Linked DNA regions of Homo sapiens: region 1 is linked to region 2. Evidence: fine-mapped expression QTL. Tissue or cell type: whole blood. Region 2 holds a variant in brackets; the other region holds the start of a gene. All regions are shown on one strand. Distances are between the middles of the regions.

The links. PIP is the estimated chance that this variant, and not a neighbour inherited with it, causes the effect. A credible set is the group of variants that fine-mapping cannot tell apart.
Region 1: it holds the start of MFSD2B, and the variant in region 2 is the best candidate, but not a certain one, in a credible set for the expression of MFSD2B in whole blood (TOPMed, PIP 0.56).

The regions. Positions count from the first base shown.
Region 1 is chr2:24,001,748-24,017,497 of GRCh38, forward strand. MFSD2B (MFSD2 lysolipid transporter B, sphingolipid) reads left to right here and starts at 8,338. Exons shown (of 14, transcript NM_001346880.2): 1 at 8,338-8,445; 2 at 11,538-11,663; 3 at 14,409-14,533; 4 at 15,098-15,221; 5 at 15,539-15,617; 6 at 15,711-15,750. The coding sequence starts at 8,350. It overlaps UBXN2A (UBX domain protein 2A), which reads left to right. Exons shown (of 7, transcript NM_181713.4): 7 at 1-3,162. RefSeq lists enhancers at 14,324-14,879, 14,880-15,435.
Region 2 is chr2:23,761,549-23,777,298 of GRCh38, forward strand. It overlaps ATAD2B (ATPase family AAA domain containing 2B), which reads right to left. Exons shown (of 28, transcript NM_017552.4): 23 at 3,958-4,080; 24 at 661-798. Among named protein-coding and RNA genes, the nearest start is that of ATAD2B, 160 kb to the right of the region's middle. The variant T/C (reference allele first, on the strand shown) is at 8,948.

The DNA.
Region 1 (15,750 bases), 240 kb after region 2:
AAGTGATTGAGACCATCCTGTCCAACATGGTGAATCCCCGTCTCTACTAAAAATACAAAAAAAATTAGCTGGGTGTGGTGGCATGCGCCTGTAGTCCCAGCTACGTGGGAGGCTGAGGGAGGAGAATGGCTTGAACCCGGGAGGTGGAGGTTTCAGTGAGCCGAGATTGCGCCCCTGCACTCCAGCCTGGTGACGGAGCGAGACTCTTTCTCAAAAAAAAAAAATTATTCATTTAAAAATAACTTCTGGCTGGACATGGTGTCTCACGCCTGTAATCCTAGCACTTTGGGAGGCCAAGACAGGTGGATCACTTGAGCCCAGGAGTTTGAGACCAGCCTGGGCAACAAGGCAAAACTCTATCTATAAAAATTACAAAAATTAGTGCAGTAGCTCACACCTGTAATCCCAGCACTTTGGGACACTAAAGCGGGCAGATCACCTGAGGTCAGGAGTTCGAGACCAGCCTGGTCAATGTGGTGAAACCATGTCTGTACTAAAAATACAAAAATTAGCCTGGTGTGGTGGCACATGCCTGTAATCTCAGCTACTAGGGAGGCTGAGGGAGGAGAATTGCTTGAACTCAGGAGGCAGAGGTTGCAGTGAGCCGAGATTGCGCCACTGCACTCTAGCTTAGGCAACAGAGTAAGACCCTGCCGTAATAATAATAACTTTTTTTTTTTTGAGATAGAGTTTTGCTCTTTCCCCCAGACTAGAGTGCAATGGCGCGATCTTGGCTCACTGCAACTTGTCCCCCCGGGTTCAAGCGATTCTTCTGCCACAGCCTCCCGAGTAGCTGGGATTATAGGCGCCCACTACCACGCCTGGCTAATTTTTGTATTTTTAGTAGAGACGGGGTTTCGCCATGTTGGCCTGGCTGGCCTCTAACTCGTAACCTCAGGTGATCCGCCCGCCTTGGCCTCCCAAAGTGCTAGGATTATAGGCGTGAGCCACTGTGCCCAGCCAATAATAACTTATAAAACATGAAACGATTTAGTGAGAAAAGTGGCCGGTTTTTTGGGGGGAATTACTTTCTGTCATAAAGAAGATAGATGGGTTCTCATGTCTTCTACATTCAGTCTGTTGTGCAGTCACATATCATGTAGACTCTGGAAAACACCTCTGTATACTGGTGAAAGAATGAAAAGAAGCAAATAATGCCTTAGTATGATTATGAAAAACGTTTTGACTTCACAGTGCCCTGAATGGGTCTTGGGAATCTCCAGGGATCCCTCAGGCACACTTTGAGAACCAATCTATATAAAGTGATGGTTCACAATGATTCTGAAGCCTTAGTTTCAGAATCATTTGGGGCAGCTTTTCAAAAATGCCATTCCTGCCACCTACCACAAAGATTCTGATTCACTGTATCTGTGATGGGTCTCAGATCTCTGCATTTTTAATCTCACGTGATTCTTAAGTATGTGGTGGAAGTACCTTTCTTCAGGAAATTCTGTCCTAAGCTTTTACCCTGAGAAAATAAAACCTGCATGCTTTCACCATGGACGGTGGGAGACTCCACTGAAACACATCTGCTAGACCACTAAGTTTATCCTTGTCACCCAGTTTGCTCTTGGAAAGAGTCTGTTCCCTTTTGTCACTGAACCAATCATGACATAAACTTGTGCTTTACCTCCTATAGCACAGCCGAGACAAGGCTGGAACATTTAATTAAGGTTTTTACTAAGGACTCAGGAATAACAACAGGGAAATATCTATGTAACTAGATGACCTGACATAAAATCTATCTTCTGATTGCAGTCTATTGTGAGAATGCTGCTTTTCCTAGCTCCCAGCCTTCCATGGGGCAGAAGGCTCTTTTAATTAGGAAGAGAGGGAGGACAAAGGAGAGCCTTTTCTTTTGTCCATTACTCTTAGAAATGAACAGGTACATAATAGAAAATAAATAATTATTGTTGGTAATGTTTACACAGCAGTGTTAGAGCCTCTCTGTAGTGAAACAAAAATAATGTTCTTACCAAAAAAAAAAAAAAAAAAAAGAGGCAATGATAAAATCAATGAGCTTATCTTTCTGATATAGAAAATAACAGGATGACAGTTAATACATGTTCAGGAATCTAAGAAAATGTTTCATATAGGCCTATCATGTAGCATTTTTATTTGCATAATTATAGTCAACATATGATTCTCCATGTAGGGGTCTCTCATTGAGAATGTTTCCTGTGTACCTATAGAAAAGCCTCTTTGGTAGATTTTCCGGTTTATAATTATTTAACCAGAAGATACATGGGAGGTTCTTTTGTATGTACCTGTAGAATACATCCCAGTAAGGGTCCTATGGAGAAAGACCTGTTGTCATCAATAACCTTCATTATTCTAACTGTGAAACGTTCATTAATGCGAATAATATCCTCAAAGATTTTCTACAATGAGAATCATCCAGTAAAGCTTTTTAACTGAGAATTTAAAAGTTGTAAAATTGTTAGTTAAATGTGTATAATTATCAAAAGAGGTTGACTTTGGAAAACAAACAATTTGCTAAGGGAAGGAAAACTTGAAAATAATCACCTTAGATGGGGCATACAATTTGACCTAAGCAATTGTTTCAAAACTGTCTTCAGTTTCTTGAAAATAATTGTTAGGGCTGATATATAGAAATACATATCTAGGCCAGGCACGGTGACTCATGCCTGCAATCCCAGCACTTTGGGAGGCTGAGGTGGATGGATCACGAGGTCAAGAGATCGAGACCATCCTGGTCAACATGGGGAAACCCCGTCTATACTAAAAATACAAAAATTAGCTGGGTGTAGTGGTGTGCGCCTGTAGTCCCAGCTACTCAGGAGGCTGAGGCAGGAGAATCACCTGAGCCCCGGAGGCAGAGGTTGCAGTGAGCCGAGATCGTGCCACTGCACTCCAGCCTGGGCAACAGAGCGAGACTCCGTCTCAAAAAAAAGAAAAAAAGAAATACATATCTAATGTTACAGATTGTGGTTTATTGGTTAATTACTATGCATTTTTTTCAGTTTAAAAAATAATCTTATTTTATATACTTCTCTCGGTATAATTTTTCATGACATTTCAGCATGTTGATAATATGTGTGCATCTATTTCAGTGCCTTAAAGTATTTTGAGAGCAATCTTTTGCTGACAGTTGAAGAACTGTTAATGAAATACTGTTCATTAAAAGGATCTGTGAAATCATTTACCCTTGTTATAAAATAGTTATATGCAAATACACTTGTCATTTTATTTGGCAAAGTCATTCAGTTTGATAATCAACAAACATTTATTAGGTGCTTTTGCTTTAACCAACATTACTTTCATTTAATACTCAGAAATGTAAAGATGTGCTATTTTTGAATACTAACTCAATGATATGTTTAATTTTTCATTTATTCTTTGTGTTATCAGCTGAACTAGCATGAAGACTCTTTAGTAGGGTTTACTCCTTTGTTCTTTTCCTAAGTACAAACCATTTTATGAAAAAATTGCTCATTGCACTAAACCTTCAGATGGAAATGGCTTATTCAGTAGACCAGTATTTGGCTTTGTCATTTGTTTTAATGTATTTTTTGCACAGATAATTTATATTCATTATAGAAAACTATAATATGCAGATATGCTAAAATGATCCTTAAATCACCTATTATTCTGCCTTTCACATATAACCACTACTGGTCCTAGTGGTGCATGCCTGTTGTCCCAGCTATTCAGGAGACTGAGGCAGGAGGCTCGCTTGAGCCCAGAAGTTCTGGGGTATAGTGTGCTCTGCCAGTCGGTCAGGTGTCTGCACTAAGTTTGGCATCAATTTGGTGATCTCACTGGAACGGGGGACTACCAGGTTGCCCATTGGAAAAGGAGCAAGAACGAATGCTGATCAGTAGTGGTAGTACACCTGTGAATAGTTTAAAAAGTGAAAAAAAAAAAAGCCAGGCGCAGTGGCTCATGCCTGTAATCCCAGCAGTTTGTGAGGCCGAGGTGGGCTGATCACAAGATCAGGAATTCCAGACCAGCCTAGCCAACATGGTAAAACCCCGTCTCTATTAAAAATACAAAAATTAGCCAGGCATGGTGGCACGCGCCTGTAATCCCAGCTACTCGGGAGGCTGAGGCAGGAGAATCGCTTGAACCCAGGAGGCAGAGGTTGCAGTGAGCCGAGATCATGTGGCTGCACTCCAGCCTGAGCGACAGAGCAAGATTCTGTCTTGAAAAAAAGAAAAAGAAAAAAGTAAAAAATAAAAATTAGAAATTAAAAACTACTAGTAACATTTTGATGTGCATCCTTTCAGATATTTTTTAGTATATCAGCTTTTAGTCTTGTTTTAATTAAAAGGCAGCTGCCTTTGTTATTTAATCCTACTTTATTGAAATCTAATTTGTCTTTTGCATTAAAAATTACATTATGAACTTACCATCACTTTAAATAGAATACTGACTGTTAGGGAAATGACTTTTATTATAATTACATTTTTTGCTGTCCAAAAGAGTTATTGTTTAATTTTTTTTTTTTTTTTGAGATGGAGTTTCACTCTTGTTGCCCAGGCTGGAGTGCAATGGTGCGATCTCAGCTCACTGCAACCTCCACCTCCCAGGTTCAAGCGATTCTCCTGCCTCAGCCTCCCAAGTAGCTGGGATTACAGGAGCCCGCCACCACGCTTGACTAATTTTATGTTTTTTTAGTAGAGACGGGGTTTCGCCATGTTGGTCAGGCTGGTCTTGAACTCCTGACCTCAGGTGATCCACCCACCTCAGCTTCCCAAAGTGCTGGGATTACAGGTGTAAGCCACTGTGCCCAGTCATTTTTTAATTTTTAAAATTGTTTTTACCTGCTGCCTTTCAAACTTAAAATTGCAGTAGTATAAACAACAAAGTACAAGTGTTGAGAATGCAATATTTCCAAACCTTTTAAAAATGCGTATCAGTAGGATGTACTTGAAAGTAGATTGATTATCTAGCTGAACACAGTGGCTCACGCCTGTAATCCCAACACTTAGGGAGGCAGAGGCAGGAATAAAGCTTGAGCCCAAGAGTTCGAGACCAGTCGGAGAAACATAGCAAGATCCTATTCTCCACAGAAAGGAAAAAAAAAAAAAACCCACAAATTGTAAAAGTAGATTATCTAAAGAAACTTTGGCTTTAGTTTATATTTAATTTCCAAGGAATTAAATATTTAGCACATGCATTATCTAATCTATCCTTGTATTTGCAATCAGGGAAACAAAATGTACCCATTTTGTAGATTAAGGAATTAAGACATATAAAATGGAATGACTTGCTCTAAACTGGGTAGTGTATCCTTTAGGATTAGATTTAGCTGTGACAGAAAATCCAGAATAATAGTTGCTTACAAGGTCAAATTTTATTTCCCATGCAAAAGTCCAGAGGGAAGCAGTTCAGGGCTGGTAGATCAACCTCATAAAATCATCAGATTCCTGTACTGTTGATCTGCCAATCTCATCACTCTGTAGACTTGGGGTCTCAGGGTAGCTGCACTAGCACCAGCCGACACATTTGTATTTCAGCCAATAGGAAGAAGCAGATATCTTTCCTTTTAAACAGCTTTATTGAGATGTAATTCACATGCTGTGCAATTCACCCATTTAAAGTATACAATTCAGGCTAGGCCGATGGCTCACTGTAATCCCAGCACTTTGGGAGGCCGAGGTGGATCACCTGAGGATCAGGAGTTCAAGACCAGCCTGGCCAACATGGTGAAAGCACATCTCTACTACAAATACAAAAATTAGCCGGGAGTGGTGGCACATGCCTGTAATCCCAGCTACTCGGGAGGCTGAAACAGGAGAATCACTTGAACCCGGGAGGTGGGGGTTGCAGTGAGCCGAGATCGTGCCCCGGCATTCCAGCCTGGGCAACAAGACTCTGTCTCAAAAAAATAAATAAATAAAAATAAAGTATACAATTCAATGGTTTTTAGTGTATTTATAGGGTTGTGCAACCATCACAATTTAACTTTAGAAAATGTTTGTCCATTCTAAAACCTCACATGCCTTAGCAGTAACTCCCTAGCCCAGTCCCAAGCAACTACAAATGTACATTCTGTCACTCTCTATTTGCCTATTCTAGACATTTGACATAAATGGAATAATACAATTTGTAGTCTTGTGACTGGCTTCTTTTACTTAGCATACTGTCATCAAGGTTCATCTGTGTTGTAGCATGCATTGGTCCTTCATTCCTTTTTCTTGCCCAACAGTAGTCCATTGTATGGATATACCACATTATATTTATTCATTCATAACCTGATGGACATTGGCTTGTGTCCTCTTTGGCATATATATATACACACACACATTATATATATATGTATATATATATGAATGCTGCTAATGAACATTCATGTTCAAGATTTTATGTGAACATGTTTTCATTTCTGTAGGGTGTATACACCTAAGAGTGGAATTGCGGGTCATGTGGTAATTCCACGTTTTACTTTGAGAAACTGCCAAACTTTTCCAAAGGACTGTCACTAGTTTCCATTCCCACTAGCAGTGTATAGGGGTTCTGATTTCTCCACATCCTCCCCAATACTTGTCTCATTTTAATTACAGCCACCCTGTGGATATGAAATGGTGTCTCACTGTAGTTTCGATTTGTATTTCCATGTGCTTACTGTTCATTTGTATATCTTTAGAGAAATATCCAAATTCTTTGCCCATTTTAGAATTGGATTGTCTTTTAATTGTTGAGTTGTGAAAGTTGATTCCAATACAAATCCCTTTTCTCCCATTCTGTGGGTTGTCTTTATACCCACTTGTTGGAATCGTTTACAGCACAAAGGTTTTCATTTTGAAAACTTTTGTAGTTCATCCAGCTTGTGCTTTTGGCGTCCTAAGAAACAATTGCCTGGCCCAATATGATGAAGAGTTGCTTCTGGGTTTTTTGTGTTTGGTTGGTTTTGTTTTTGTTTTTGTTTTTGAGACAGAGTCTCCCTCTGTCACCCAGGCTGGAATGCAGTGGCACGATCTTGGCTCACTGCAATCTCCGCCTCCCGGGTTCAAGCGATTCTCCTGCCTCAGCCTGCCGAGTAGCTGGGATTACAGGCATGAGCCACCGTGCCTGTCCCTTGCTCCTGTTTTTTCATAAGTTTTACATTCTAGGTCTATGATGCATTTTTAGTTAATGTGTACCCCTGTTACTGGTGGAAGGTATCTGAGTCACGTGGCACCAAAATATGTCAGCAGGAGTGAATCTATATGGGTCTGCAGCAACCTCAGTTCCTGCCTCCTCAGAAGAAAGAATTCCACTGAGGGGCATAAGGCAGAAGGAGAGACTGAGGCAAGTTTTAGAGCAGGAATAAAAGTTTATTAAAAAGCTCTACAGCAGAAATGGAAGGAAGGAAAGTACACTTGGAAGAGGGCCAAGCGGGTGACCTGAAAAAGAAGCGCACAGTTTGACCTTTTGACCTGGGGTCTTATGCATTGGCATACTTCTGGGGTCTTGCATCCCTTCTCCCCTGATTCTTCCCTTGGGAGGCCTGCCTGCATGGGCAGTGGTCTGCCAGCACTTGGGAGGGGAGTGTGCACACTGTGTATACTGGAGTTGTACCCATGCTCACTGGAGGCGTTCTTCCCTTACCAGTCCGGTGTCCTTCGAGGGTCACATGTCAGTTAAACTCCGCAATTTGTGTAAGCCCACTTGCCCAGCTCCTGAGATCTTACCGAGAAGCTGATCACCAGTTTCAGGTTTTCTCTATCTATTGGGAGACTGCCTTTCCCTGGCCCCGCTGGATCAATGATCATTTTAGAGGGAGCATAACAACCGCCTGACTGTCGCCTGATGGTTGCCTGACGTACCTGGTTGGAAGCGTGGCCCTCTCCTGCCCTTTTCGAGGCTGACTAGCTACCTGCTGTCACCCCCCTTCCCTTTTAAGGACTTTTCTGGAATGTTGGCCTGTGCCACCTGCTTTTATTCGCTGGCCAGAACTTAGTTACTGGCCATCCCCGTGGTCTGTATAGGAGACTCGACAATGTATATTTCAGGCGTTGGGCATCATGTGTAGCCGGCGGAATGCCTGTTCAGCCATGGTCCAGCCTGAACGAGCGGGCCTCTTGCTTCATTTTGCAGGGGAGCTGCTGCTTGCCCGCGGTCACCCCAGCGGTCTGGCGGAGCCCTTAGCGCGCAGGGCCGCCGTCTGCGGGCGCTCACGCCCCCGGGGATCCACCCCAAGGAGAACGGTCCTGAGGGCCTGCCGGGCCTTTCCCCCCGCGGATTTTGGTTCTTCGCTGTTTCCCTTTGGGGTGCCCTTCGCGGTTTCTGCGTTTCCCCCGCGTTGCCAGCAGCCACTCGCGCCGCGCCCCTAGCCCAGAACCGCCCCTCCCAAGGGCGATAACCCCGAGGGCAACGGCCGCGGGCGGCGCTGCGGTGGCAATGGCGGCGCCCCCTGCACCAGCCGCCAAGGGGTCCCCGCAGCCGGAGCCGCACGCCCCAGAGCCCGGCCCGGGGAGCGCCAAGCGAGGGCGAGAGGTGAGCGGGGCGGCGGGGACCGGGAAGGGGCTGCGTCCTCGGGGAGCTCCAGGGCGTCGCCTCGCAGCCCCTTTTCCAGCTGGGGGCAGCCCGGAGGGGCTCGGCCCAAACCTGCCAGCTCAGGGGCTGCCCTCGCGGGGTTACACGGCTGGGAGCGGGGAGGCTGGTAGGTGCCGGCGCCGGAAAGAGACTAGGACGGGAAGCCTAGCCCTAGCCAAGGAAGTAACTTGGGGATGCGTGGTCATTGCTGTCCTGATTCCCGGCTTAGGGGTCTTGTCCGTGCCACCGCAGGTCCTCCCGGGGTCCCCGAGCTCTGGGCAGGCAGGGCTTTCTGAAGCGCCTGGGGAGGCTGCGTCCTTCCCGACCTCAGGCAGCTGCTGTGGCCTCGGCCTCCCTCCCAGACCCTGGCCTCGCCCAGGCACCAGGCTCCCCTTGGAGGCAGCCTCAGGGAAGGTCCTGGCCATGGGCTCCGACAAGAAGGGAGGAGGGCAGGTGGGAGCGGCGGGGTCTTCGGGGCCCCTTGTCCCTTGCCCGATGCCGCCGGGCCGTGCTGGCCAGTGGGGCTGTGCTGGACGGAGCAAGGGGCCTGGGGCTTCCTGGGCCTCACTGAACGCGCCTGCTCCCTGCTCGTGCCCAGGGCATTCTGTGGCCTCCCCTGACCACCTCAGCCCCCAGCCTGTTCAGGGCTTCCTACGAGGCACCTGGGAGCACAGGATTGCATCCCACAAGAAAGTGAGGTGAGATGAAGGGGCTCTCCGGGGACTCTCACTTCCCAGGGAAACTTAGAAATTCAGGGTGAGATTAACAGCAAGAGGGAAACACTCGCATTGCTGATGAAGTTCCGGCGTGGAATCCTCTTACGACTCTCCGAGGGGTGGCAGCCCCGGTCACTCCAAGGAGACCGAGGTGCCCTGCCCTGGGTCACGCAGCTAGAGATAGCAGGGCTGCGCCCCTCGCCCGGAGCCGCCCCTCCCAAGGGGCTTCTCCTTGTACAGCTCACTGTACAGCTGTACCGGGCTTTTATGACTTTCGGTAAAACTGTCATCCTCAAGACGGCAAGATGGGATCATATCCCTGGCTTCACTTGGAAGTTCTTTCTAAAGTTCTAAAAACTTGCTAGGCCTGTTTTGGGGGATACAAGAGTCCCCATTAGGGGGAGAGGGGGACTGTCACGTTGAATTCTGCCTGTTCTTAAAGTTTTCTGGAAGCTGAAATGATGTTCACACAAATGTCAGAAAAGAATCATCCTGCCCCCAGTGTGGTTTTCCCCTGTGGGTAGGAAGAGTGTGCAAAGTGTGATAAACCCTTATCTGGGGAGACCTTCCCTTCACAAGAGCCTGCTGGGGTGTCCTGCAAGATGTGGAAATGGGTGAAGCCATGTCATCTCCACTCCCTCCAGCCCCCAGCAAACGATGAGAAAAGAGCCCAGCTTCTTCCAAAGAAACAGCACTTTACACAGGGTCTTCATGGCCATTTATTGCTTCAACGGATATATACTAAGCACCTACTGTATACCAAGCTTTGTTCTAGGTACTGGAAACACCATGATAAATAAAAGGTGGAGTTCATGCTCTCAGAGAGCTTACATTCCTGTAGGGAGAGGCAGGAACTAAATGAAAATATAGCAGGCGGTAAGTACAACTGAGAGAGGTGAGAGGTTAGGGAATGCCTCTTGGAGGAGGTGACATTTAAGCTGGTGACATCAAACCAGAATGACAAGGAGTCACCTTCCAGGCAGAGGAATGGGAAGGGCAAAGGCCCTGAGGCAGCAACAGACTTGATGATTTTGAGGAATAGGAAGGAGCCCGGCGTGGCTGAAGGAGAGCTATTTGAGGTGAGGTGGGTAGGGGGCCGACTGGGTGGACTCCTTAGCCATGATCAGGACTTGGAGTTTTATTCAAACTGCAATGGTATTGACTGAATACCATGGATCTGGAAACAAACAAACAAACAAACAAAACACACACACACACACACACACACACACAAAAACAGACAAAAAAACCCTGCAATAGCAAGCCATTGGAGAGTTTTAATCAGAGAGGAGATGGGATCTGATTATTTATTTATTTATTTATGACTGAGTCTCTGTCACCCAGGCTGGAGTGCAGTGGTGTGATATTTGCTCACTGCAACCTCTGCCTCCCTGGTTCAAGCAATTCTCTTGCCTCAGCCTCCTGAGTAGCTGGGATTACAGGCGGCCACTATGCCTGGCTAATTTTTGTGTTTCTAGTAGAGATGGGGTTTTGCCATGTTGGGCAGGCTGGTCTTCAACTCCTGGGCTCAAGCAATCCACCTACCTCGGCCTCCCAAAGTGCTGGGTTTATAGGGATGAGCCACTGTGCGATTTATGTTATTACAAGAGCACTGGCTGCTGGGTGGAGTGGATTGTAGGGAGCAAGGGCAGACACAGAAGCCACTTAGGAGGCATTCACTGATAGACAAGAACTGGAAAGAAGAATAGATGACTCCTAAGTTTGTGGCCTGAGCCACTGAGGGGACCAGCGGTGCCATTTGCTAGGAGCTGGATTAGACAATGGAATGGCCATCAGGAGCTGTATGTAGACCATGCTAAGCTGAGACGCCTGCCAGGCATCCCTGGAGGGCTGTGGGTAGGCAGGCTATGGGTAAATGAGCTATCGCCTCATTTACTCATCGAAGAAACAACTTTGTGAAGTTGGCAGGGATGTTGCATTTGACAGATGAGGAAAACAGGCTTAGAGAGATGATGTGATTTATTCAAGGTCACATAGAGGGGTAGGTGACAAAGGCAGGCTCAAGCCCAGGTCTCCTGACCTGCAGCTTACACGGCCGTGCTGACTCAGTAAATGATGGCGGCTTCAGCAGGAAGCCCAGGGTAAGATGTCCAGAAGAACTTCCCCCCTGGAAATGTTTAGAGGTCAGGGTTTAGGATCTTTTTTCTCTTCGTCTCACTTCCTCTTAGGATGACATGGGGGCAAAATGGGGCTGAGAGGTTGCTGGAAAAGCCCTGAAGACATCACAGAGACTCAGGATGTTTACTGAAGTCATGGGGTGTGGGGACCTGTTTTGTGTCTGTTGGGAGAAGGGCTTAGTTCCTGTGTCTCCTCCAGGACAGCAGAGCCGGTCGCCTCTCATTCTGTACAAAGGTGTGCTATGGCATTGGTGGGGTCCCCAACCAGATAGCCTCCAGCGCCACAGCCTTTTACCTGCAGCTTTTCCTGCTTGATATAGCACAGGTAAGTGTGGGCAGTAGCCCAGTCTCTGCTGGCATCTTCCTTGGGGTCTGGTCCTTCCACCCCCACCTCTGCTTCTGCTCCCACTATCCTTGTAGACAGCACTTCTGACACGAGCTCAACAAAAAGCCAGAAGCCAATGAGGGCAAGGTACTCAAGAATGTTTACTGCAGCCTGTTTGTAGTGGGAAAATGAGAAACAATGTAGATCCCCGACAATATAGAAGCAGTTGGCTAAGTAAGCTGTATCATAGCCACATAATAGACCAAGCCTGTCCAACCCGCGGCGGGACGGCTTTGAATGCGGCCCCACACAAATTTGTAAACTTTCTTAAAACAGTATGAATTTTTTTGTTTTTTTTTTTTTTTAGCTCATTAGCTATCATTAGTGTTAGTGTATTTTATGTGTTTATATGTGGCCCAAGACGATTCTTTTTTTTTTTTTTTTTTTGAGACAGAGTCTCACTCTGTTGCCCAGGCTGGAGTGCAGTGGTGTGATCTTGGGGCTCACTGCAACCTCTGCCTCCCAGGTTCAAGCGATTCTCATGCCTCAGCCTCCCGAGTAGCTGGGATCACAGGTGCACACCACCACACTCGGCTAATTTGTTGTTTGTTTTTTTTTTTGAGATGGAGTCTCGCTCTGTCACCCAGGCTGGAGTGCAATGGCATGATCTCGGCTCACTGCAACCTCTGCCTCCCGGGTTTAGCAATTCTCCTGCCTCAGCCTCCAGAGTAGCTGGGATTACAGGTGTGTGCCATCATGCCTGGCTAATTTTTTGTATTTTTAGTAGAGACAACAGTTTCACCATGCTGGCCAGGCTGGTCTTGAACTCCTGACCTCGTGATCCACCCACCTCAGCCTCCCAAAGTGCTGGGATTATAGACGTGGACCACCGCGCCCAGTCTACAGCTAATTTTTGTGTTTTTAGTAGAGACGGGGTTTCGCCATGTTGGCCAGGCTGGTCTCGAACTCCTGATCTCAGGTGTTCCATCCACCACAGCTTCCCAAAGTGCTGGGATTACAGGCGTGAGCCACCGTGCCTGGCCAAGACAATTCTTCTTCTTCCAGTGTGGCCCACAGAAGTCAACAGACTACACTAACATCACTATCAAATAGACTATCATGCAGCCATTCAAAATAATGATCTATACCAGTTGACTTAGAGTGATTTCCATGATGCTCTGGTGAAAAAGAAAAGTTAGTTTTAGAGAAGAGTATATAAAATGATCCCATTTTAACAAAACAAAGACAGGCTCCATATGTGTGTGTGTGGATGGATATGTATATATACATATGTATCTGTCCATGTTTAAAATGTGAGCATGGAGAAAATTCTAGAAGGATATACACCAACTCGTTAATGTTGGCTACCGGAGGGAATGATGGAGAATGGAGGGTAAGTAAAACCAAATTTTTAAAATGAGGTATCCAGCCGAGCATGGTGGCTCACAGCTGTAATCCCAGCACTTTGCGAGGCCGAGGAGGGAGGATCACTTGAGGTCAGGAGTTCAAGACCAGCTTGACCAATATGGTGAACCCCATTTCTACTAAATATACAAAAATTAGCCAGGCGTGGTGGCACACGCCTGTAGTCACAGCTACTCAGGAAGCTGAGGCAGGATAATTGCTTGAACCCAGGAGGTGGAGGTTGCAGTGAGCTAAGATTGCACCACCACATTCCAGCCTGGGCGACAGAGCAAGACTCCCTCTCAAAAACAAAACAAAAACCAACAACAAAAAAATGAGGTATCCAGCCGGGTATGGTGGCTCACACACCCAGCACTTTGGGAGGTCAAGGCGGGAGGACCGTCTAAGCTCAGGTGTTCAAGACCAGCCTGGGCAACATGGCAAAACTCCACCTCCACAAAAAAAAAAAAAATTTAAAAATACAAAAATTAGCTCGGTGTAGAGGAACGTGCCTGTGGTCTCAGCTACTTGGGAGGCTGAGGTGGGAGAATCACCTGAGCCCAAGAGGCAGTGGTTGCAGTGAGCCGAGATGGTGCCACTGCACTCCAGCCTGGGCAACAGAGCGAGGCCCTGTCTCAATTAAAAAATAAAATAAAATAATAAAATGAGGTATCCACGAATGTTTAAGATGACAGTCTGATATGATCCCATTTATATAAACTGATCAATCTCAAGCACACATGAAGAAGCCTATGAAAGGCTGATCATCCAAACGATTCTGGCAGTTGTCTTGGGATGCTGCGATTTCAGATGAGCTTTGCTTAGTATTTTCCTGCATAGTTTGAGTGTTTTTCTAATAAGTGTATTATTTACATAGTCAGAAAAAACAATGCATCCTTTCCATTGTGAAACACAGTGTCCACCTCTGTCAGCCCAGAGGCACCCTCCTTGCTCTGAGCCAGAATGTTTTTCTAATGAGTGTATTATTTACATAGTCAGAAAAACCAGTGAATCCTTTCCATTGTGAAACACAGTGTCCACCTCTGTCAGCCCAGAGGCACCCTCCTTGCTCTGAGCCAGCCCCAGATGAGGGCCCTGGAGTCCTCTCCGCAGTGGCTGACATGAGTACTAATGGGAGTGTGCAGGGCGGCAGCACTCAGCTCCCTCCCCTGGACTCAGCCCCGGGATCAGCATCCTGGGGAAGGCTGAGGAGCCCTTGACACTGTGGCTCTGCCCTCCGGTCCCGGTTCCCAGGCCTCCCTCTTGATGGCAAGCAGGCCTGGATGGGCTCTCTGCTGCTGCTGGGCCTCAGCTCTCTATCCCCTCCCCTGTCTGTTTCAGATCCCTGCCGCCCAGGTGTCACTTGTTCTGTTTGGGGGAAAAGTGTCTGGGGCGGCTGCTGACCCTGTGGCTGGGTTCTTCATCAACAGGAGCCAGAGGACAGGGTCTGGACGGCTCATGCCTTGGTGAGCAACCGCTCAGTCCTTAGGATCCAGGCACCTGGTCCTGGCCCTGAGGTCACTGTTTGTCACAGCCCTATTTCCTAGCAGAAACCCACTGGGTGGTTAGGAGACAAGACTGGATAATATCGCAGGTGCACTGGGGACTGACTGTGAGTGATAAGGAGTTCAGAGACATTCTTGGGGACTCTCCCTCCCCAGATGGCACGGGGCTGGATGAAGCCTCCAAGACTCCCAGGCCTGGCCTGGGGCACTGAGTGTGGGAAGGCTGGGCTGAAGGCCATGCGAGGCCTCACGGAGGAAGTACAGCTCAGTGTCCCAATGTCCACACAGGGAAGGGCACCAGCAGCGCTGAGAGTGCAGCTGGAGCTCCCACGAGGAGTGGCCGCCCATTCCCCACTGCCTCCATGACCCATCGGCCACTTCTCCCCTGCTCCTGGCTCCCACCCAGGGCGCCCCAGCCTAGGGATTCTCAAGGGGCAGAGAAGGGGTGGGGTTCCTCCAGGCTGGGCCCTTTGTGTTCCCCTGTCTGGGTCGGGGGGCCGCTCCACCTCGGCTGTGCTTCCGCAGGGTGCTGGGCTGCACCCCCTTCATCGCCCTGGCCTACTTCTTCCTGTGGTTCCTGCCCCCCTTCACCAGCCTGCGAGGCCTCTGGTACACGACTTTCTACTGCCTGTTCCAGGCCCTGGCCACGGTAAGCAGGGCCCCTTCCTGGGCCTGTGCTCTGGCGAAGCCCATTGCTGGCCATGGCCACTCTGAAGTGTGCTGTGGGGGCAGGGCTGCCGCCCTCCCCACCCGCCTGTGCCTGGACCATGCCATTGGCACTCGCCAGCCTTGCGCGGGACTGGCTGCCCCCTCCTGCCTTTGGGACCCTAGCTCCGACTTCAGGTGGCCAGCTGGGATATGTCACGTTGGCCTGTGGGTGTCGGGATGTGACACCCAGGATGGGGGAGGTCGCCCGCTGTCACCAGGCAAAGCTGGGGGCGGTTCTAAGCTCTGCCGACGCCCCAGTTCTTCCAGGTGCCCTACACAGCGCTCACCATGCTGCTGACTCCCTGCCCAAGGGAGCGGGACTCGGCCACCGCCTACCGTGAGTGCAGCCGTGGGTTTCGGGTTCCAGGGAGGCAACTGCCCCTGGGACCCCACTCCCTCTCAGTCACCTTAAGTGGCACTCTGTCTCCAGGGATGACTGTGGAGATGGCGGGAACACTGATGGGGGCCAC
Region 2 (15,750 bases):
TGGATTATCACCTTTATACCAGAAAAACAGCATGTATCTTCCAAGGAAGGCTATCTTTAGTGAAACAGAAGAACTCTATTAGAAAGACGCAGTGTTTATTAACATTTGACTTTTGGAAATGTTATAGATCAACATGAATGAGTACAAAAAAACTCCCAATTTTCCCTTTAAATACATCTCACAAAAACTACAAAGAAAAGAAGGCTGTGCCAATTTTTCAAACTGAACACAAAATAGTCTCTCAGAAAAATCAACTTCCTGTTGCCAGATCAGACACACCCACATGCGGGAGTGTCCATTTCCCACCCTAAAGAGAACATCCTGCATAGTGTACAAGGAGTGGAGGATAAGGACAGGGGCATATAAAAATTCTACTGGCTCCACATGGCTATCCAAAAACCAAAGTTTAAAACTGAAAATATTCAAGCCTAGTTCAATTGTCATAGCAAATAATATTGAATAGGGATAGAAAATAACAAATAAAGTTAAAGAAATATATTTCTGATTCAGCATTTACCTCACAAGCTCTTCTTCACCTCTGAAAAGAGATTAAAAGAGCTATGGGAAAAGAGCGGCACTTTGTTTTGTACCCAATTCCTAACATATCTACATCATTCTCAGTTGTTCTCACTACTGGATAACATGAGCTGAAATACTCACATGCACATTTATTTGCAGAGTTGTGCCACACATCCATTGGATTTCTTTGTTTGTGCCGAAATGCCTCTTCGACTCTAGTTTCTGTCTTCCGAGCTCCAGTACTATGAGGATTTATTTGTTCTGATGTTACTGATAAGCCTGCAAGCAGAAGATAAGCAATACCTCTTTAAATATTCCCAGCTACATAAACCAAAAGGTTTTTAAAAAAATCTCAAATACAAAACTGAGTTTTAAAGTCATTAATTATACTAGGGCAGTTTGCAGTTCCAATGAAAGCAGTGTCTTTTGTTTTAAGATGGGTAAGAAACTTAGATATAAAATCATAAAAATAAAACAATCTGGCAGGCCATGTTTACACTTAATCCCCAAAGGGGCCCTATTTTTATTCATTTTAATTCACAAAGAGGCACATTTTACATTATTATGACTGTGGAACAATAAGATTATATATTATCCAAAAATAATGACCTCTGCCATCTTAGAATGTACAACAGTCTACTGGGCTACTAAACCCCATTCCCGTGAACTGTTTCAAAATGCTATTTGCTTCCTGTCGCACCACACTGCAGTCAGTTTGGTTGTCCTGCATTATATTCCTAAGACTAATCATTCTATCTTAATTTTCTTCACTAGAGATTTATTTCTTCTATGTGGTCCTTAAGTTGGTTTTTCTCCAGGTTCTCTCTGTAACCACTTTTCTTCTTACTCTAATCTACACATTCCCCAGCGAAGTATCATTGTGTTCAGGTTCAATTACTATTATATAATAATTCTCAAATCTGTATCTTTAGCCCAAACATCTCTGATCCAGATATACAACTTCTGATCCATATATACAACTCCTTACTTCATATCTCCAACTGAATTTCCTAAAGATAGATCAAATTAAAGATAACTGGTTTATCTTTCCCTACAAAACAAAACAGTTTGTTCTTATAGATTCCCTATCTAGATTGGGAGTATTAGTATCTACTAAGTCACTCAACCAGTAATATGGCAGCCAGTTTTTATTCTTCCTTCACTTCACAGTGCTCTCCATCCCTGCGGCTACATCTCACTTATATTAATCTCTTCTAACTCCCTTCCTACTTCATTAATTAAAACCCTGGACTACTCCAACAGGTTTTTGTTCCCCAACAGCTTTACTGAGATACAATTTATATAACATAAAAATCACCTGTTTTAAGTGTACAATAAATAGTTTTTAGTAGATGTATAGAATTGTAAAATCACCACAGCAATCCAATTTTGGATAACTGTCCCAGGCAATGACTACTCCACTTTTTGTCTCTATAGACTTGCCTTTTCTGGACATTTTATATAAAAGAAATCATACAATATGTAGTCTTCTGGGTCTGGCTATTTTTACTTAGCATAATGTTTTGGGGTTTTTTTTGTTGAGACAACATCTTGCTCTGTCACCCAGGGTGGACTGCAGTGGCATGAACATGGCTCACTGCAGCCTCAACCTTCTGGGCTCAAGCAATCCTCCCAACTCGGCCTTCCAAATGGCTGGGATCACAAGTGTACACCACCACGCCTAGCTAATATTTCTCACTTTTTTGTAGAGATGGTATCTTGCCATGTTGCCCAGGCTGGTCTCAAACTCCTGGGCTCAAGCGATCCTCCAACCTCTGCCACCCAAAATGCTGGGATTACAGGCGTGAGCCACCATGTTCAGCCAGCATGTTTTTGAAGTTCGTCCATGTTGTACTGTGTAACAGTACTTTGTTCCCTTTTATTACTAAGTAGTATGCGCTTGTATGGGTATCCTATGTTTTCTTTACCAATTCACCAGCTGACAGACATCTGGGTTGTTTCCAGTTTGTGGTTATTATAAACAATGCTCCTATGAACATACAAATGTTTATGTGGACATATATTTTCATTTTTCTTGGGTAGATTCCTAAGAGTAGAATCACTGGGTCATACAGTAAATCCATGTTTAATTTTTTAGAAATTGCCAAACCATTTTCAAATGGGCTCCAACAGCTTTTAAACTGATCTTTCATCTTCCTACCCTGGCACATTGAAACCATGTTACTTCTTCCCGCCAAGGCAATTCGACCAATTCATTTCACTGCTTAAAATCCTTCAATGATTTCTATTGCCTATGGCTATCAAACTTTAGTGTACATAAAAACTCTTGGATAGTTTGTTCAAATAAAGATTTCTTGGCCTTAATATTCTCAGAGAATCTAATTCATAGGTCTAAGCTGAAGTGGGTAATAGGCAGACATTTTTGAAAACACTGATCTACAAGATAAATCACAAGCTCCTTAGCATGGCATTGATTTACTCAAATATTTACCGAAAACCTGTTTTATACCAGATGGGGTTCTAGGGACTGGAGCAGAGATATAAACAAGACATTCAAAGTGCTGATATCCTAAATAAGGAGGACACGATCAAAAAACAAATAATATAATGCCAAATGCTACCAAAGCCTCTATCAGATTAGGTGGTCAGGGAAGAGCTCTCTAAAAAGGTAGAAGAAAAGTTTCTTCATAATTTTTGTGTCCTAGACCCCGCACCTCTTGAGCCCTATTTCCAGCATTCTGTATTTCTTTAGCAATACCAGTTTAACACACCTCTGTGCCTTTACATATGCTATTGTTTTCTCTGTGTGCAATACACCTCCTCCTCCTCTATCACTGCCTCCCTAGTCCATTAGAGAGAACACTTCTATATTCACTCCTTACTCTGATCAAAATGCTGGGTTCCCTACTGGGAGGTCTCATCTCTGTGCTCTGAACATGCTTCAACCAGTGCATACACCACACTGTACTTGATTGGTTTTACATTTCTCTCTCTCCTACTAAAATGTGAGTTCCTCAAGGACAAGATTATAAACTGAATTGACAAACCACAATTGCTAATTCTGTGTTTCTAATAACAAAATTGCATATAAATTTCACTAGGGTGGGAAAAACAGTATACCTAAACATGTTTTTAAAGTACCAGAAAGTAAACTGATGAAAAATAAAACCTTTTCATATCTAATATCTAAATCCATTTAGAAATCAATTCTTAAAAAAGATATACTCCTACAAAACAAATTTCAATAAGAAACACTTTATTTCTGTAATACACACTATCACACTAAAACTTTCACAGTAGGTAAAGTTGTAAAATATCTTTGAGAATTTACATAACACATTAGTATCAGAAATTAAATAAATACATTAAATACATTACTTTCATAATACCAGCAATCCTAAAGAAACAGCGTTCAAGTACTCTTGGCCTGAACAGAGCACACTAGGCTTCAGTACCAAGTTTATTTCTACAACTTACCTCTTTTTATTCTTGCTTCCTTAATTTCCTCACAAAGTTTATTAAATTCTGGATCTAATTCAGCTGCAATGATAGCATGTGCAGTGTCCTTCAGGGTACAAGCCCTGTGCCTAATTATTTTATCTGTTAAAAAAGTTGGTATATATTTATTATAGAAACAAATAAAATAACATTAACAAAGGACATCTTAAAAAGTAAAAGAATACAAACAAAATTATAAAAAGCATTGCTAGGTGAGAAAAAGTTTATTTAAAGTATGGGTAAAAAAATAAATATACTAAGCTACTCAGTCAAGTTAGTAATTCTCTGAAAATTATACTTTAAGAACCTCAAAGGACTAAACCTATTACCATTTCTGAAGCAGTCTGGAGAATTACAAGAAAAAGATACATGGTTTCAAATTTCTGAAAACAGAAATATGTGATTTTCAGTAAAAATTTAAAAAGTATTTAGAGGATATTCACCAAATGCCCAGCCCCAGAGTTGTCAGAGATTAATATTAGGAATTCAAAAAAATCTTAAATTTCTCCTAAGTTGACATTGGTCAAAACTATGCTAAAGAATACAATATATTTTAAAGGTGACTTATTTTTTTTTAAATGTGACAAAAACAGAGAAATACAGAAAGACTTTCTAAGCTAAAGGGCACAAGATGGTGTATACATTGTAGGTAGATCCAGGAGAGAAGCATAAACATGGTTCCAGGTAAACTATGCCTAAAAATGGTACTAAAAGAGGAGCCTCTGCTTCACACTAATCCAGAAGTTCCCATTCATAAACAATACAATATAAACAGTGCCCCCTAGATCTGTGCAACTCAGAAATATGAAAAGGCAAGTAATATATCAAGGTAACTAATATTCTAACAGTATCAAGAGCAAGAATCCAGAGTTGCAAAACAACATTTGCTTTTTCCTCTCTAGTAAGGGCAAACAGTATAGACAAAGTTACAGAGACACTTTATAACTTTTCTGATTTGAAAGTTATTATGGCTCATTGTGGTAATCTTACAAAACCAAACATGCACCACTCAAAGGCACCACTGATATTTACTTCCAACACATTTTCTCTAAACATTCACTCAACAAATGTTGTCGACTGCACCAGGGAAAGCTGGATGGTGGCCACCCACAGCAGTGAACAAAACATACATGATATCAACTTTCAAGGACTTTTTCAGACCACTACAGGAACAAATCATCTCTCATACATCCAAATTAACACCTCCTCCCTCCAAAAAAGAAAAAACCCAAAAGCAAAACACCCTGAAAAACAGCTATGAAGAAAACCTACAGGGTACTGGTGTGGGTTCCAATTTAGATTGAGCAAGTCAGGAAGAAGACTCTCTGAAGAACAGGCATTTAAACTGACACTTGAAGCACAGACTGGAGTAGCTACTGAAAGAGTAAGGGGGGAAAAAAAAAAAAACAACTAGTGCAGGTTCAGAAAATACCATGTGAGAAAATCCTGCTGTAAAGAGTTTGGAGATTTCAAGAAACTGAAATGCAGCCAGTGTAGTGTTATGAGTTCTAAATTTCTTTTCAAAGAATCAATATGTCAGTATGTTCAATTCTTTGCCTTCTACTTTTAAACTTAACTTCCTCGTAAAGCAACCTTTTTCGATTACCTGCTCTACCCTGACTCATTCCAATTACCTGCTCCACCCTGACTCATTCCGATTACCTACTCCACCCTAACTCATTCCTATTACCTGCTCTGTCATAACCATTTTTCCCGCCAAAACACTTACCTCGTCATTCTCTTTAAATTAGCCAATCGGAATTAGTTTAGCCTGTGTGGTCTAACCCTAGCCAACAGGAGAAGGACACAGCAGTGGGGGGCCACATGCATCAGGGATAATAAACCCTTCCCCTCCCTTGTCCAAGTGGGCGCCCACCATTACTCCATCTGTAAGGGTGCACCCTTCTATAGAAAAACTTGCCTTGCTGAGAATTAAAAAGAAAATTTTATATTCAAGTGCTTTTTGAGGTACTGAAACTATTTATAACAGTAGTCAGAACATAATAAGCAAGAGGCAAAGAGAAACTGATCATATTGAAAGGATTTCAGATTGTATCCTAAGAGCAATGAAAATCATTGAAAAGATCTGCTGTGGTTGTTTTCTGATCACTGGATTGAGGGGAGTCAAGAATAACACCAGGGAGCATAGTCACTAGGCTTTATTTTAGTGAGAGAGGATGATGACTTGAACTGGGGTAATGGTGGTGGTGGTGGTGAAAGACAAGATTACAGATTTGAAATGTGCTCTCAATGACACAATTTGGTGATAAAGTAGATAAGAGGGTAACATAAATATCAAAGATGATTTCCTAGCTTCTTGCATAAAAAATGGGGAGACGGACATACTATTTATAAAGATGCAAAAACAAACAAAAAACAAACAAAAAAAAAAACAGAATAGAGAGGAAAGGAGGAAAAGAAGTTAGAGAGTAATCTCAAAGAGTTCAGCTTCAGGCATTTCAGTTTGGAGATGCCTAAAAAATATCCCAATGGAGATACCATGTAAGCACATGAATATGTGTCTCAACAATTCTCTTTATGAACAAAAACCACAATGATTCTGTAATCTGCATTATTAACATATTGTACTTCCCTAAGTTTAAAAATAGATCTATTGAAGCATAATAGACATATAATAAGTTGCTCATACTTAAAGTATACAATTTGATACATTTTGAGGTAAGTACACATCCATAACATTACCACAACAATAAAGATAATCAATGGGCCAGGGGAAGTGATCGTGCCCGTAGTCAAAGCACTTTGGGAGGGAAAGGTAGTAGGACTGCTTGAGCCCAGGAGTTTAAGACCAGCCTGGGCAACATGGCGAGCCACCGTGTCTCCACTCTGACTCATTCCCATTACCTGCTCCACCCTGTACAAAAAGTACAAAAATTAGGCAAGCATGGTGGTGCATGCCTGTGGTCCCAACTACTTGAGAAGCTGAAGCAGCAGGATCGCTTGAGCCCAAGGGAGTTGAGGCTGCAGTGAGCCATGTTCACACCACTGCACTCCAGCCTGAGCAACAAAGCAAGATCCTGTCTCCAAAAAAAAAAAAAGACAATGAGCATATCTATCATCACCAAAAGTTTCTTGTGACCCTTGATTTTCCTCCCTTCACCCTTCCTCACAGCCCTCTATTCCCAAGCAATGAAGGATCTGCTTTCTCTTGCTATAGATCAGTTTATATTTTCTAGAATTATATATACGAGTGGAATCACAAAGAATATTTTTAATCAGGATTCTTTCACTCAGCATAATTATTTAAGCATAAAAATAATTATTGGTCCCTATTTTTGCATGTATCTGTACTTCGTTATTTGTTAGTGCTGAATACTAATCCATTATATGGGTATAACACAATTTGTTTATCCATTCACATGCTGGTGGACATTAGTGATAATTCTGAGTTTTGGCTATTATAAACAAAGTCACTATAAACATTGATGAACAAACCTTTGTATGGAAATATACACGTTAATTTTCCTTGGGTTAATACTAAGGGGTGGAATGGCTAGGTCAAATGATAGGTACGGTTCTTCAGCAACCGCAGGGGATTGGTTCTAGGACCCCATCTCCCCTTGGATATCAAATCTCCAGATGCTTATATCTCTCATATAAAATGAGGTAGTGGCCGAGCACGGGGGCTCACGCCTGTAATCCCAGCACTTTGGGAGGCCAAGGTGGGTGGATCACGAGGTCAGGAGTTCAAGACCAGCCTGACCAACATGGTGAAACCCCATCTCTAATAAAAACACAAAAAAATTAGCCGGGCGTGGAGGCAGGCGCCTGTAATCCCAGCTACTCAGGAGGCTGAGGCAGAGAATTGCTTGAACCCAGGAGGCAGAGGTTGCAGTGAGCCGAGACAGCGCCACTGCACTCCAGCCTGGGTGACAGAGGAAGACAGCGTCTCTTTATTTATTTATAAATAAATAAATAAAATGAGGTAGTACAGTCAGCCCTTTGTATCCACAGGTTTCAAAGCACACATATGGAGGGATGACTATAATACATATGTTAAACATTCTAAGAAACTTCTAGACTGTTTTCCAAGTCAGCTGTTTCATTTTACATTCCTACCACAGTGCATCATAGTTCCTGTTACTCTACATCCTTGATTACATTTGATATGGTCTTTTCAGTTTTAGACGATTATTACAAGTGTTTAATGGTGTCTCACTGTGGGTTTTTTTTTTTTTTTTTTTTTGAGACAGGGTCTCATTCTGTCGCCCAGGCTGGAGTGCAGTGGCATAATCTGGGCTCACTGCATCCTCTGCCTCCTGAGTAGCTGGGATTACAGGTGTGTGCCACCCCACCCAGCTGATTTTTGTATATTTAGTAGAGACAGGGATTCACCATGTTGGCCAGGCTGGTCTCCAACTCCTGACCTCAGGTGATCCACCCACCTTGGCCTCCCAAAGTGCTAGGATTACAGGCGTGAGCAACTGTACCCGGCCTCACTGTGGTCTTAATTTGCATTTCACTAAAGATTAATGAGGTTGACCGGACACAGTAGCTCACATCTGTAATCCCAGCACTTTGGAAGGCCGAGGCGGGCGGGTAACCTGAGGTCAGGAGTTCGAGACCAGCCTGGCCAAAATGGTGAAACCCCATCTCTACTAAAAATACAAAAAAAAAAAATAGCTGGGCATGGTGGTGTGTGCCTACAATCTCAGCTACTCGGGAGGCTGAGGCAGGAGAATTGCTTAAACCCAGGAGGCGGAGGTTGCAATGAGCTGAGATCATGCCACTGCACTCCAGCCTAGGTGACAGAGCAACTCTGTCTCCAAAAAATAAATAAACAAATAAATAAATAAATAAAAAGATTAATGAGGATGAGTATCTTTTCATGTGTGTATTTGTCTTCTGTATATCTTATTTGGTAAAGTGTCTTCAGCTCTTATGTCCATTATTTAAATTGGGTTATTATTAAATTCTGAGACTTAATATTCTGGCTATAGGTTTTAAG[T/C]TCTTGTATACAGGTATGTGATCCATTGTGAGTCAACTTCTGCATACAAAGTCTTTTTTTGCATGCTGATATCCAATTGTTCCAACACTGTCTATTGAAATTTAATCTACTTTCTTCATTGAACTGACTTTACATCTTTGTCAAAAAGCAATTGACCCTCTATGTGTGCATCTATTTCAGGACTCTATCCTATTCCATTGACCTATTTGTCAAACTTCATGCCAACATACACTGTCTAGATTACTGTAACTTTTTAAGTCTTACAATAAAGTAGTATTAAGTCTTCCAGCTGTTTTTATTTTCCAAAGTTGTTTTGACTCTAGGTCCTTTTCATCCTCATATGAATTTTAGAATAAGCTTGTCAATTTCTATCAAATGCCTGCTGGAATTCTGATAGGATGGTGTTGAACCTGTGGTTCAATCTGGAGAGAAATTACATTTTCATAATGTTGAGTCTTCCAATCCATAAGCCATGACATATATCTCCATTTATTTGGGTCTTCTTTATCTCACTAATATTTTATAGTTTTCAATGTATAAGTCTTACATGCCTTTTGTCAGATTTATCTATATTTCATGTTATTTTTTGATGTTATTTCAATTTCCTGTTTGTTGCTAGTATATAGAAAAACAAGTGTTTTACATGCTGATCCTGTCTCCTGCAACCCTAACTTCACTTACATGTTCTAATAACTTCTTTAAATATTCCATAGGATTTTCTATGTAGACATCATACGTCTACAAACAACAACAGGTTTACTTCTTTCTTTCTGGAAGTAGGGATGCCTTTATTTCTTTTTCTTACCTTACTGCATTGGCTGAAAGCTCCAGTTTAATGTTGATAGAAGTGGTAAGAGCAGACATCCTGGTCATGTTTCTGATCTTAAGGAGAAAGTACTTACTCTTTCATCACTAGTATGATGAGAAATGTAGGCTTTTTGTAGACATCATTTATCACTGAACTGAAAAGCGGGGATAGGGGGAATAATTTTGTTCCAGTAAAAAAATTTGACTTACAAAAACAGGCTGTCAGCTTGATGATAGTCTGCTGACCCCTGGTTTAGAGCATCTACTTTTAATGTGATGTATGTGATTATTGATATGGTTGCTATTTATTTTCTACTTGGCCTATATGTTTTTTGTTCCCTTTTTCCTCTTTTTCTCACTTCTCTTGGAATTACTGTATACCTTTTTATGATTCCATTTTATCTCCTTGTTGGTTTATTAGCTCTAACTCTATTGCGGCCCCTGTGTGAACTTTAAGGAATATTCCCTCTCCTTCTCTGGCCTCAGATAGTTTTCTCACACATATGCACTAACCAGTACTTAGTTAAACACTAGGGTAGGACCTCCTGGAGATAGCCAGAGTGTTCTCTCTGTGCAGCTTTCTTCTTTCTGGTAATCTGCCCTGCAAACCCAAACCACTGTGGCCTCTTCAGATTCCAGGTCTGGCTCCCCAGTTCAGAGGACCTCCAGAATATGCCTGGGCTGCTCCTCCTGGGGCTGGTATCTGGAAATTGTCTCCAGGCAACCACACTACTCCTCTTATTTGTTTCTATCTTTTGGGAATCACTGTCCTGTGTTGCCTGGTGTCCAATGCCTTCCAAACAGTTTTTCTTTAAATATATTTTGTTCATTTTTTTTTTCATTGTGTCATGTGAGGGGGTAAATAAATCGAGTCCCTTTTACTTCATCTTGGCCAGAAGAAGAAAAGAAGAAGTCTCCTGGTGTCTTTTAAACACTCTTTGAAAACCAAACTTTAATAGTTGTGCAACAATCCAAAGTAGGATGTGCCTTAATTTTTCAAAAGTATTGTTCTCTTTTTGGAAGCTTTAAGTTGCTTCTAATTTTAGCTACTATAAATAAAAAACTACAATGAACATCAACATCCTTAGAAGTAGCTATACTTTCAAGTTGACAATACAATGTTTGTAGCCTATGCAATACCACAGCTTTCCACCACTGGCTTTCTACCTCGGCTTGAATGAAGAGAAACTAAAAAAAAAGGTAAGATTAAATCTAAAGGTATGGATCTGGCATATTGTCTCTAAAATAACTCAATGATTGGTCTTTCTGCTTTTTATAAAGTGTATCTTCTATCCCAACACTACCCTAAATTAAGCAAGAAAAAAGAATAAATGAAGAAAAAAAATCCATAAAAATTTCCCACTAGTATGGAAGACAAGGAATATATTCTTTTAAAAAAATCTGCATTTGAGAGGGAACACTGCTTTTTTGGGGGGATGGGGGTGGGGGACAAGGTCTCACTCTGTCACCCAAGCTAGAGTGCAGTGGCATGATCATGCCTTATAGCAGCGTCAACCTCCTGGCCTCAAACAGTCCTCTCTGCCTCAGTGCCCCGAGCAGCTATTAATAGGACCACAAGCATGCGCCACCACGCCTGGCTAATTTTTGTACTTTTTGTAGAGATGGTGTCTTGCCATGCCCAGGTTTCACACTGGCCTCACATTCCTGGGCTCAAGCGATCTGCCTACCTCGGTCTCCCAAAGTGCTGGGATTACAGGTGTGGGCCACTGTGCCGGGCCAAGGCATTGCTTTTTCATGTGCCTATCATTATAATTCTTTTCAATCATTGTTTAGAAGATTGTCTAAGATTATACATAGCATATAATCACAAACTTAGAAGAATATTCAAAGTAGAAGGGATGTCTATGATAATCCTAGGTTCTTAATCTTTTTGACCTGGATTCATATAAGAACAGAACATGGTTGGGCATGTTGGCTCACATCTGTAATCTCAACACTTTGGGAGACTGAGGCAGGAGGATTGCTTGAGGCCAGGAGTTTCAGACAAGCCTGAGCAACATAGGGAGACCCCATCTCTGCAAAAAATTAAAAAGTTAGACAGGCTTGGTGGCTCATGTGGTCCCGGCTATTCAGGAGACTGAAGTGGGAAGATTACTTGAGCCAGGGAGGTCGATGTCTCAAGTCAGCTATGATGGCTACAGTAAGCCATGATCGCACCACTGCATTCCAGACTAGGCAACAGAGTGAGACCCCCTCTTGCGGGAGGGAAAAAAAGAATAGAATAAAAGTTGAAAACTGCACATGAATATAATTTTGTTTGTGGATTCAGAGACTCACTCATCACTTAAAACTCTAGGTTTAAAATTGTGTGGGAATAGAAACTATATATTTATGAGTTTTCACTCTGTCTCATACTTTAAGATTTTAAGACTGTCCAAATCCATGTAATTTCCAAGTTACATAAGCACAGCAAAAAAACCCCATATATTGGCTTTGAAGTCAAGACAGCTCTCAATCCATTCAGTTGTGCCATATAACATCTGTGGGTTTGCACACAGGTAATTATATAACCTCTCTGAGCCCCCATCTCCTCATCTATAAAATAAAGATATTACCACTTACATTTGTCTTCAGCAAAAAGTACTGGCTACTTAGGACATATAGATGAGTATCTATAAAATTAATAGAAGCAGTACTTTAATGAATGTAACAGCAATTTCACTGTGTTGATGTTTCTTTTGTAATTGGTAAACTTTTACTTTTAGTTCATTATGAAGAAAAAAAAATCCCAGAAGTATATTAGCTGAGATTTTGTTCAACAAAATTATTAAGAGTAACCATATTTTTAAGAAAAGCTCATTTTTATGGTATGATTTTTCATCCCAAATAATTTCATAAATAAGAAATTTGGCTGGGCATGGTGGTTCACACCTGTAATCTCAACACTTTGGAAGGATGCAGCAAGAGGATCACTTGAAGAGTTTGAGACCAGCATAGTCAACCTAGCAAGATCCCATCTCTACAAAAAATTTTAAAATTAACCAGGCATGGTTGTAAGTCCTGTAGCTGTAGTCCTAGCTACTCGGGAGGCTGAGGTGGGAGGATCACTGGTGCCCAGGAGGTCAAGGCTGCAGTGAGCCATGATCATGCCACTGTACTCAGGTCCAGGCAACAGCATGAGACCTTGTCTCCAAAGAAAACAAAAAACAGAAAAACATTTTAACTATATTTACTGGTTCAGGTCATATTTATATATTATTAGTATTTATGCATATTTCTACAGAATGTTACCATGTCTCCATTTTATAATTTCTACTTAATCTGAGATTCCTTGAGTTAGTATCTAAAAATAGAGGCTAGGCACAGTGGCTCACACCTGTAATCCCAACAGTTTGGGAGGCTGAGGCGGGTGGATCACCTGAGGACAGGAGTTCAAGACCAGCCTGACCAACATGGTGAAACCCCGTCTCTACTAAAAATACAAAAATTAGCCGGACATGGTGGCGCATGCCTATAATCCCAGCTACTCAGGAGGCTGAGGCAGGAGAATCGCTTGAACCCGGGAGGCGGGGATTGCAGTGAGCTGAGATCGTGCCATTGTGCTCCAGCCTGGGCAACAAGAGCAAAACCCTGTCTGAAAATAAATAAGTAAATAAAATAAAAATAGAATAATAAATAAAATTTACTCATCGGCCACATTTATTAAGAACATGCTTTACACAAGATGCCTATACAGATCCTGTTCTCAATCAGCTTCGAGTCTAAAATAAAGGATGAGGATAAGTAAACAAATAACTATGGGCAAAAAAGTAATAAATGTCTCAGAAAAGTTACATTATGAGATTCAGAGATGAAGGGGTACTTACAACTGGAAGGAAATCAGAAAAATCTTTCATGAACTTAGCATTTTAGTATTCCCTGAAGGGTAGGTAAATTTTATTTTATTTTTTTATGTTTTATTTTTTTTTTTGAGACGTTGTCTTGCTCTGTCTCCAGGCTGGCGTGCAGTGGCATGATCTCAGCTCACTGCACTTCCACCTCCTAGGTTCAAGCGATTCTCCTGCCTCAGCCTCCCAAGTAGCTGGGAATACAGGCGCACACCACCATGCCCAGCTAATTTTTGTATTTTTAGTAGAGATGGGGTTTCACCATGTTAGCCAGGATGGTCTCGATCTCTTGCCCTCGTGATCCGCCCGCCTTGGCCTCTCAAAGTGCTAGGATTACAGGCGTGAGCCACCGTGCCCAGCCGGGTAGGTGAAATTTTAAAACGATATGTGATTTTAAAAGCTACATGCTATTAAAAAGTACATTTTCTTGTATGTTGCTTATATCTCAATAAAACTGATTTAAAAAGAAAAACATGTAAATACTCCCAGTAGAGGCGATACATTTGACAAGGGTCCTGAAACAGTAAGACTGGGACTTACACTGGGCAAGAACTGGGACCCATATTTCCTAGAAAAGGGGCCCTCCTGGGCTCCTCTCTCTTCTCATTCTACACACTGTCTATGAAATCTCATTCACTCCTCTACGATGATGACTCCCAACCATATCTCCTGCCCACTTCTTTCAACCTCCAGAACCACATATACAACTAGTAATCCAGCACTTTGGGAAGCCAAGGCAGGCAGATCACAAGGTCAAGAGATCGAGACCATCCTGGCCAACATGGTGAAACCCCATCTCTATTAAAAATACAAAAATTAGCTGGGTGTGATGGTACACGCCTGTAATCCCAGCTACTGGGGAGGCTGAGGCAGGAGAATCGCATGAACCCGAGAGACGGAGGTTGCAGTGAGCCGAGATCACGCCACTGTACTCCAGCCTGGCAACAGAGCAAGACTCCGTCTCAAAAATAAATAAATAAATAAATAAAGTCTGCATTTTGTCTGGGTTTACCAAATATGACTCATACTAACATGTCCCAAATTGAATTTGACATCCTGCCCATAAATCTGTTCCTCCATTGGTTTACCTTCCCAGATTCCTCTAACCAGACCAAAACCTCAGGGATCATTCTAGGTTTTTGTCCACCATATTTAAATGGTTGGTCACTAAGACCTCTATATTTAATCCCTGCAGCCACTGCAATTAAATCTTAACTGATGTTCCAACCTCCATCTTACAACTGCCTTGACCTCTACCCCAAATTTGATACTAAGAGGTCAAGGCTGTGTCTTAACCATCTGTGTATCTCTAGCCTTAAACAGGATTTATACACAGAGAATATTTAACAAAAAGATGCTCAATAAACGTTGAGTCAGTGAGTAGAGAAGCAAATTAGTTTCCCACTACTCCTCCACAGAGGCACTCTATTCTCCAGACTTGTTTTTTTCATACCTCTGTTTCCTCAGCCTAGAGTCAATGCCCTTCCCAATCTTGCTAATCTCCAGGTAGTGTCTTCTCCTCTGTGCTCCACTAACCAGGTAACGTATTTCTAATAAGACCTTATGACACTGTCTTATAATCATCTGCTGGCACCTTAAGACATTATTCATGATTGCCACCTCTATGGTATCCCTTTATCTTAATAATATTTGTTATTATAATCACCAATAATTTGATAAGTGTATTTATCATCTCTAAAAATTGATGACTTTCTATATAGTAGGGATTGTGTTTCATATAACTGTTACAGGCTGAAATGCATCTCCTCTAAATTTATATGTGGAAGGCTTAACTCCCAGTACCTTAAAATATGACTGTATTTGGAGACAAGGCCTTTAAAAAGATAATTAAAATGAGGACATATGGGTGGGTTCTAATCCAATCTGACTGATGTCCTTACAAGGAGAGAAAATTTGGACACACCAAGAAACACCAAGGGCACACAAGCATAGGGAAAAGGCCATGTGAGGACACAGAGAGAAGGAGGCCACCATCTGCAAGCCAAGAAAAGAGGCCTCAGGAGAAACCAACCTGCTGACACTTTTATTTTGAATTGATAACCTCTAGAACTGTGAGAAAATTAATTTCTGTTACATTTTGTTATGGTAGCACTAGTAAACTAATACAATTACATATAGAATAATGCC